Regions from separate parts of the Homo sapiens genome. Here region 2 is reported to be linked to region 1. The links are microRNA targets in miRTarBase. Many come from high-throughput screens and were not tested one by one. Region 1 holds a microRNA gene; the other region holds the end of a gene's coding sequence.

What was found. The annotated mature microRNA hsa-miR-6821-3p reads UGACCUCUCCGCUCCGCACAG and lies in region 1 at 2,998-3,018, opposite strand. An mRNA with a match to its seed (bases 2 to 7 or 8) in the 3' UTR can be bound and repressed. Matches are read on the target gene's strand: a 7mer-m8 pairs with bases 2 to 8, a 7mer-A1 pairs with bases 2 to 7 and ends in A, and an 8mer does both.
Region 2: miRTarBase lists ENSA as a target of hsa-miR-6821-3p. The part of its 3' UTR that is shown has no 7-base or 8-base seed match.

What each region holds. Positions count from the first base shown.
Region 1 is chr22:49,961,771-49,965,936 of GRCh38, reverse strand. It overlaps MIR6821 (microRNA 6821), which reads right to left and starts at 3,071; the gene lies at 2,998-3,071. It overlaps PIM3 (Pim-3 proto-oncogene, serine/threonine kinase), which reads right to left. Exons shown (of 6, transcript NM_001001852.4): 4 at 4,126-4,166; 5 at 3,072-3,248; 6 at 1,865-2,997. The coding sequence ends at 2,810. RefSeq lists an enhancer at 229-729 and silencers at 3,303-3,822, 3,953-4,002.
Region 2 is chr1:150,619,311-150,623,401 of GRCh38, reverse strand. ENSA (endosulfine alpha) reads left to right here. Exons shown (of 4, transcript NM_004436.4): 4 at 543-1,277. The coding sequence ends at 558. Among named protein-coding and RNA genes, the nearest start is that of ENSA, 8.3 kb to the left of the region's middle. RefSeq lists a silencer at 455-749.

The DNA.
Region 1 (4,166 bases):
CACAGGAATCCTCCACCAGCTCCTGCCGCCCCTGGGCCGTGGTGCTCAGTCAGGCAGATGACCTGTGGCCGAGAGCCTGAGGAAGGACCCGAGGCTGGCTGGGCCCTGTCTCCTCCTGAGTCAGGGGGTGGAGGGCTATGTCCAGAGGCGCCCCCAAGCGCGCCATCCCCTGTGCTAGAAGGCCAGAGCTATCTCGCTGGGAGCCTCAGCCCAGCGCCCTGCACCCATTCCCAGGGCCCTGGCAGATGTCCCCACCCTGTAGGCCACCTTAGAGGGGTCCCCAGCCAGCCCTCAGCAGCAGTGTGTGGGGCACAGCAGTGGGAAGGACCAGAGTCCTATTCTGACATCTGCCCAAGGTTCCTGCCTCTCTGGCCTTCAGTTTCCCAAAAGCAATCTGCGTGGAGGGCCTTTGCCTGGCTGAAGCCGGGGCTGGGGATGCCCATGGCTGGGGGCTGGGGAATGCCCATGGCAGTTGGCCCAGGAGCAGGTGGGCCGCAATGGCTGCTGCCCGAGGGTCCCATTTTGGCAGTGGGGGGTGGGGTAATGGGAAAAGCCTCACTGGACCAGACTGGACTCAGGGCACGCTGGTTGGGCCAGGTCTATGGGAACCGGTGGCTTGTCCTTCCCGGCACCTCCTCATCTCCCCTGCTGGCCTGAGGCTGTAGGGTGAGATGAGGGCCCCGAGAGACCTGCCTAACTGAGCAGCTGCCCTCCAGGTGCTCCTGGATCTCCACAGCAGAGGCCACAAACACCCACTGATGTCCTGAACAGTCACAACCTGAGGCGGGAGCCCCCCACCCGAGCCCTCTCTGCCTGCTCTCCAGGGGAAGGGTGACTTTCGTCTCCTCCTGTTTCTCTTTCCCAAACTTCCCGCCTCTGCCACAGCCTCTGGCCTCGGGCCTGGGACAGTCTTCTGTCCAGTATGGTGCTGCCTGCCCCGGGCTGTTTATCAGGGACTCTTATTCGGAGGGGCAGATGGGAGGCAGGGGGCAGACAGGGCTCCAGGAGCCAGAGAGCCGAGTAGGTGCGCTTGGCAGACTGGGTGATGCCCCAGGTGCAGGTCCACTGCCAACATGGGGCACCCCACAGCCCAGCACAGGGTGGGCAGTTGAGCAGAAGGCCCCTGGGGTGGGGGTGGGGGAGCAGTCTCACTGGGACCCTCCACCCAGGCCTCCTCTACCCACCAGGAACATTGTGGCCAGGCCCATTGACACACCCGAACCTGGTTCATACCCCACTCTCTCACCACACACCCGCCAGGCCAGGGTCTAACTATAACTGACTGAACACCCCGATACCCTCCACCAAACCCCACCCTCATGTCCTCTGCACGTCCTTGGCACTGCCCGGAACACACTCCCACCCCATGTGCCTGGCAAACTCCTCCCTGTCCTTCAAAACCCCCAGCCACCCTCTGAGGCAGCATGGACTCCCTCCCCCACCCCCCCGCACGTCTCTGTTTCCACCAAGCCAGGATGCAAGTATGGCCATTTCCACTGGCAAGGCCTCCCTGGGTGGGGGCTGCAGAGATCCTCCTGGGACCACCGAGGAATGACCTCCTGACTAGTGTGGGTTGCTGCATCCTCAGGGCCTGGCTCCCTGCCTCCACCTCCCAGAGGCACCCCAGGAGGCAGCTGCTCTTCTCCCTGGGTGCAGCACGGGGTAGTGCGGTGGGCCACAAGCCACATGAAGTAGCCTGTGGCACTGGGGAGGCTGGCACCCAGCTGGGCCTCCCCCGTTTCCCCCGTGGGCAAAACTACCAGCCCCACGGGAAACTTGTCAGGTCACCCAGCAGCCAAAGCCCTTCCTCAGAGCCCCTCTCTTCCCCCAGGATGCCCAGCCCCATAAATACAGGATTATCCACTATGTACAAAAACATTTTAATTGAAATACCTGTATAAAAAAATATGATCTCCAGACATCTCACTTTTGAACTGAAAGAACCCCCATCTGCGATGCCTGCACACACCGCATTCACACAAACACAGGTACTGAATAAATTAAACGCTCAGGCTCTGGCCCCACCCCAGCTTTCAGAGCCCACAAGCAGACTGTACAAAGTCAATAATTTAAAACCCAAACCCTGGGCACAGTGCCTGGAAGTGTCAGGGTCACCCACTCCCCTTAAGTTAGCCACTATACATGTTCATCTTCTGACAGGCGGGGCCGGGACAGACGCCAGGCACAGGAATCAGGGCCTGGGGTCCCTGGACCACAGCCACCCCCTCCCCTGCCTCCCCACTGTCCCCTGGGGCTTGGGAGAGGCAGACTGCTCAGAGGAAATAACCTCAACAAATAAATTAAACAATAAATAGCCCCGGTGGGCCGAGGGCACCTCCAGGGGGTCACACCATAAATAACAGAGTTGGCGGCGGGTACGGCTCGCGTGGGCGGGCGGGCGCGGAGGCCAGGACTTGCATTGTGTGTGCAGGACGTGCCCAGACGCACACCGCAGGACTGAGGGCGGGAGGTGGGCTTGGGACCCTGCGCCGGCGGAAAGAGCTCCGGGTGGGCAGGCAGATGGGAAGGCCGCCTCCGGACACAGCAGCACAGAGGGGCGTCTGGGGTTCAAGTATCCACCCAGGGCAGGCGGGACCTCGACCGGAGCGTCTTTGGACAGACAGAGCTTGAGAAAACCAAGTCCCGCGGGACCAGCGTTCAAAAGGCACTCAAAGCGAAGGTCACCAGGGGTCAGAGGTCACTGCTTCCGCAGGAGGAGACGGCCCACGCAGGAGAAAGTCAGGGTCTGGGGGCGTCCCAGGTCTGGCCAAGGCAGGTGGTCCCCTAGCTCCCAGTCAGGTGCAGCTCCTCACAAGCTCTCGCTGCTGGACGTGGTGCTGGCCACGTCATCAGGGTCGAGGGTGCACAGCCGCAGGTCACAGCTCTCCGGGACGCCCCCGTCAGCCCCCAGCATCCAGGGATGGGCCGCAATCTGATCCAGCGACGGCCGCTCTGAGGGCCGCAGGGACAGGCACCACCGGATCAGCTGCTGGCACTCTGTGCGGAGCGGAGAGGTCAGGGAGGGCCCAAGCAGGGCGAGGCCCCCACCCCCGCCTCGAGCCACCACGCACCTGGAGAGACCCTCCTCCGGAAGAGCAGGCGGCCTCGGAGGATCTCCTCGTCCTGCTCGAAGGGGATGTCCCCACACACCATATCGTAGAGAAGCACGCCCAGCGACCACACGGTGGCCGAGCGCCCGTGGTAGCGGTGGTAGCGGATCCACTCCGGGGGGCTGTACACTCGGGTGCCTAAGGGGACACAGGGCTTAGCACGCCCACCACAGAGGCAGAGCCGCTCAACAGACGGCGAGGTCCCTGCTGGTTAACTCCCTGGCCTCAGTAACAGGAAGCAGAGCCAGGCCTCAAAATCCTGCTCGTCATCACCCTGGAAAAACCCCGGCAGGCGATGGGGGGGCTGGGGGAGGGGCCGGCCGTCCCCCTCCGCCGGCCGCGGGGGAGGAGCAGGTCACATGAGTAAGAGCTCGGCTTTCACAACAAACAGATGCGCTGTGAGGCTACCTGGGTGGGGGGGGGACAGCGCGGGTCCCTTACCGCCCGGCGCGCCTGCCTGCGGGAACGGGGGGAGGGGAGAGAGGGAGGGAGGAGGGAGGGGCGGGCGGGGAGCCCCGGCTTCCCCAAGCTCCGCAATGCGGGGATTTCTGCCGCCGCGCCCCCGCGCTCCGCACGCACGCAGCTCCCGCCCCCACGCAGGGGAGGCCCCGCCACTCCAACCGCGCCGCGGGGGCCTCCAGGCTCCCGGCGCAGACCCAGCCCGGCTGCGCCCTGCGTCACGCACGGAGACTCCTCCGCTACCGCCCCCAGCCGGGGGTCTCTCGGGCCGGAAGGATGTCACGCGCCTCCCACACCGGGGCAAGAGGCCCCGTACCCCCCAACGCGATGGAGGAAGCAATATTGAGCGCGCCCCTAGCCCCCACCCAGCACGATCCCGCTCTTGATCCCTCGCTCAGCCCTCCCCAGGGTAGCGCGTGGGCCTCTGCTCCCCACGAGAGCAGACCCAGGGCGCGCGGCCGCCCAACAGTCATCAGCCCCTCCATGTGCCGCCCCTGCAGGCGTTAACCCGCCGGCAAGGCCCCCGGAACGTTCCCTGCCCCGCGCCCGCGCTCACCGTCGAAGTCGGTGTAGACCGTGTCCTTGAGCAGCGCACCC
Region 2 (4,091 bases), not on the chromosome of region 1:
TTCTGTATTTGCCAGTTTCCACAGCATGAAGTACATAGCTTCCTTAGCAAGGAGTGGTCATTCCAAAATCCAAATGCAAATTGCTTTGATTAAACCTAGATTATTAAATCCATTCAGAACAGCATGTGTGTGGTCTGGTTCTGGCCTCCACACAGTCACCACCTCATCTCTGTGCTACCTCAGTCTTTGCAAGTAGCTGTGGCCATGCCTCTGAAACAGCCTGCTCTGAGCCAGGCAGCTTACCCACCTGGAAACCTCCAGTTATTTTGATCTTATCTAAAGAATTATTTTTCTATGTTTGTTATCCATGGATATCCCAGAAAGGCAGATAACGTTGTTTCGTGGATAGGAAAAGACTGAAATTCTATTTTTTGATTTTTTTTGCAACTCCCTTATGGATAGGATTGAGACATGCCAGGTAGCCTAATGGTTGTTAAATGTGGAGGAATCATGGGGTAGAGACTGGGTTGGAGTTCAGGGTTTTTTTCCCCTATTACTTGACAGTGTTGTTTTTTTTTTTTTTCTTCTGTGTTCGTCCGCAGTGGCCAAGTTGAATGATGCTGCCCGGGGCTCTGCCAGATCCTGAGACGCTTCCCCTCCCTGCCCCACCCGGGTCCTGTGCTGGCTCCTGCCCCTTCCTGCTTTTGCAGCCAGGGGTCAGGAGGTGGCTCGGGTGTGGGCTGGAGAGGCAGAAGCCCTTTCCTGTTGGTGTCCCAGCACATGGAGCCCCTTGGGCTGAGCACCAAGACCTTGAACCTTTTTTGTTTTACCTTTTTTCCAAATAACAGTTGGGAGAAATATCAATGAAATTCTGGGGGTGGGGGTGGGGTTGAAAGGGTGGGGTGGGAGATATGGAGGAGTATGAATTAGGGCTTGGAGTTGGTAAAAACATTCCTGACTATCCTTCTTAACCACGTGGCTGATGTGGGGTAGGTATGAGGGGAAGGAAGTGGAGTAGCCTAATGAAAAGGGGTTCTAGTTGAGCTCTGTAGATAAATGCCTTGTTTCAGTGTGGTTGGAGACCTGGTGTCAGATAAAAGAAACTCCATCCGCACAGACAGATGCAAACAGCTCCTCTAGTTCTGCAGAGCTAGTTGAGAACTCAACATTAATCATTTTAAAAAGTACTGTCCTTGAAATAGATTTGCTGTGGGAAGAAGGGCAGTGAGTGTGGGAGAAAGGAGCCGTGAGCGTGGGGAACCCCACAGAGCCCAAAGGACTTTTTCAGTATTCGAAATAAACAAAACAAAAACCCATGAAAAAACCCAACCCAGAAATATTCTGAAGCAGTTGGTGTGTTTTATTGGGGTTTGGGAGGGGGAAGAAAACAATACTGAAGACATTGTTAATGTGAGATGCGGCTGAGTTCCCCAATACCATCACTTAGGAAAGGGAGCAGGAATGTTGGCATAAACCTTGCCCATCCCTTTGTTTCTGTAACCAATGTAGAAGGTGCATCAACCTCAGTTTGTGGCTCACAAAATGAGGCATTTAAGATATTTGATCTAAATGGTTTCTTGACACCTAAGCCTAGTCCAGGTTTAGCAGAAAAGGAGGCCCAGTCTCCTTTTCCCTCTGTCTTCCATTCCTTTTCAAGTTCCCATGTTTGTGAGGGAGAAATGTGACAAACCAAAAGAAATATATTATTTCTTTGTAATAAGCCAAAAGAAACTCAAGTCTTTCTGCTGGTGGCCAGCAGGAGGCAGAGTGATTTCTTTCCTCATGATGTGCCAATCTGCATTGCTGGAAACCTGCTACTGAAAGAAGTTAAAAGCTGCCTGTGAATGTAACGTACAAAAGAAAGGTTACCAAAGGAGAAAAAACTCCAGCGGGTGTACGGTGGCTCACGCCTATAATTCCAGCACTTTGGGAGGCCAAGGTGGGTGGATCACTTGAGGTCAGGAGTTTGAGACCAGCCTAGCCAACATGGTGAAACCCCATCTCTACTAAAAATACAAAAATTAGCCGGGCGTGGCGGCACATGCCTATAATCCCACTTACTTGGGAGGCTGAGGTAGGAGAATCGCTTGAACCCAGGAGGCAGAGTTTGCAGTGAGCCGAGATTGTGCCATTGCACTCCAGCCTGGGCGACAGAGCGAGACTCCATCTAAAAAAAATAAATGAATAAAATAAAACAAGTACAAATTTAAACTAGAGACACAAGTTAATGGTGTTTATTGTGGTGGGGTTAGTGAGCCATCCCATGATTTCCTCCTGAGTATGTTATCCCTGGTTTGTGTTTGCCAGCTGGGGAATGAGGTGAGGTCTATGAGGCTGAATGTGGGATCATTCAATTTCTTTCTTTCTTTCTTTTTTTTTTTTTTTTTAGAGGCAGGATCTTGCTCAGTCACCCAGAATGGAGTGCAGGGTGCAAACACTCACTGTAGCCTCAACCTCCTGGGCTCAAGTAATCTTCCCATCTCAGCCTCCCAAGTAGCTGGGACTACAAGCACACACCACCACACCTGGCTAATTATTTTTTGTAGAGATGAGGATTCACCATGTTGTCCAGGTGAGTCTCAGAACACAGGCTTAAGCACTCTTCCCATCTCAGCCTCCCAAAGTGCTGGGATTACAGGCATAAGCCACTGCGCCTGGCTGAGAATATATTTTCATCCTTTCTTTTGTAGAGAGGATCTCGTTTTGTTGTGTAGGCTGCTCCTGAACTCCTGGCCTCAAGCAGTCTTTCCACCTCAGCCTCCCAAAGTGCAGGGATTACAGGTGTGAACCACTACACCCAGCAGTTAGTGCAATTTCATTTTAATACAAGTGAGGAAATTAAGGTATAGAGATAAGTTACTTGTAAAGTAGAAAAGCTAGTTAGCTGAAGAGCTTGAGTTAGTATCTTAGGCTTTTATATTATTTCTTCCCACTATTCCTGGCTTCCCTGGTCCTCAATTTTAATTTGTGGCCTTAAGAAGCCTGGGGTGCCAAAAATGTTTGGGGCTATCTGTATTTCATGTTACTCCTTAGCCTTTTTTTTTTCCTTTTAGTTCTTCACCACTGCACACTTGGCAGGATGTATCCCATTTTAAAACTTGACAGTCCATCTCCTTCACTCCCATACTGTAGGGCTAGGCAAGCAAAGCAAACTGATTCTGCAATGCTTCTAATAGTTATTCCTGCTCATTATTTTAGCTAGATGTATTCTAAAGTCTTTATCCCAAAGAGTTGAATCAAAGGTTCTTCCACTCCTCCAACCTGATTGTGCTGACAAGCCACTAAGCTGAGCCATCTAATATACAGGGTGGCAGGGATGAAGTCACCGTTACTGTCCAACAGCTTTTATTTTAAGCTGGTGTGGGCTGGGCATATCAAAGACAGGCAAAGAAAAATAACTTGGAGAGTTGCCATTGAGGATATATCCACAGTGAGCCAACAGCACCCACACAAGCAGCCCTCGTCTGTATAATGCCCTCTACTGGGTCTTGAGGGAGATTAAAAAGAAAGATCTCTTCCATCCTGGGGAACCTGAGATATGACAGCAGCACACAAATACAGGCAGATTTATAGTTCTAAGCAGAGTTCCAGTAGCTAAGCTAAGGGAAGGAGAGTCAGGAGATAAGCTGTTAGCTGAATTTTATTAAAGACAGATGACTTCACTAGTAAAGATAAAGTGGGACCTCCCGTGGTTGGGCTGCAATATTTTAAGTCCCAAGTGACTGCTGAATACTCGCTTTGCAGTTGGAAAAATAAGCTGTTTTTGGCCAGATAAACAGTGTAAGAGGTCATCTCTGCTCTAGAGGAACATGTAACCTAATTGAGACACTTCTACATATAATGCAAGATAGCATATGGTTAGTCAAGTAGTAGAATTCTGAGAAGAGAAAATCTGACTGGACTCATTAGGTAAACATAAGTGGTGGAAATGGACATTTAACTGGGCCTTGAAAGGTGGGTAGTATTTAAACAGTGCAGTTACTTAATAAGTGTCCACAATATGCCTGGCATTGTGCTAAAATACAAGGTAAATTGTATGTGGCTGCCTCTTTCAAGGAGATTACATTGTAGTGGTGACCTACACATGAAGAAATCATATTACAGTGTTAAACTTACAGCAGTGGTGGTCTAGCTATACAGAGGAATAGGGA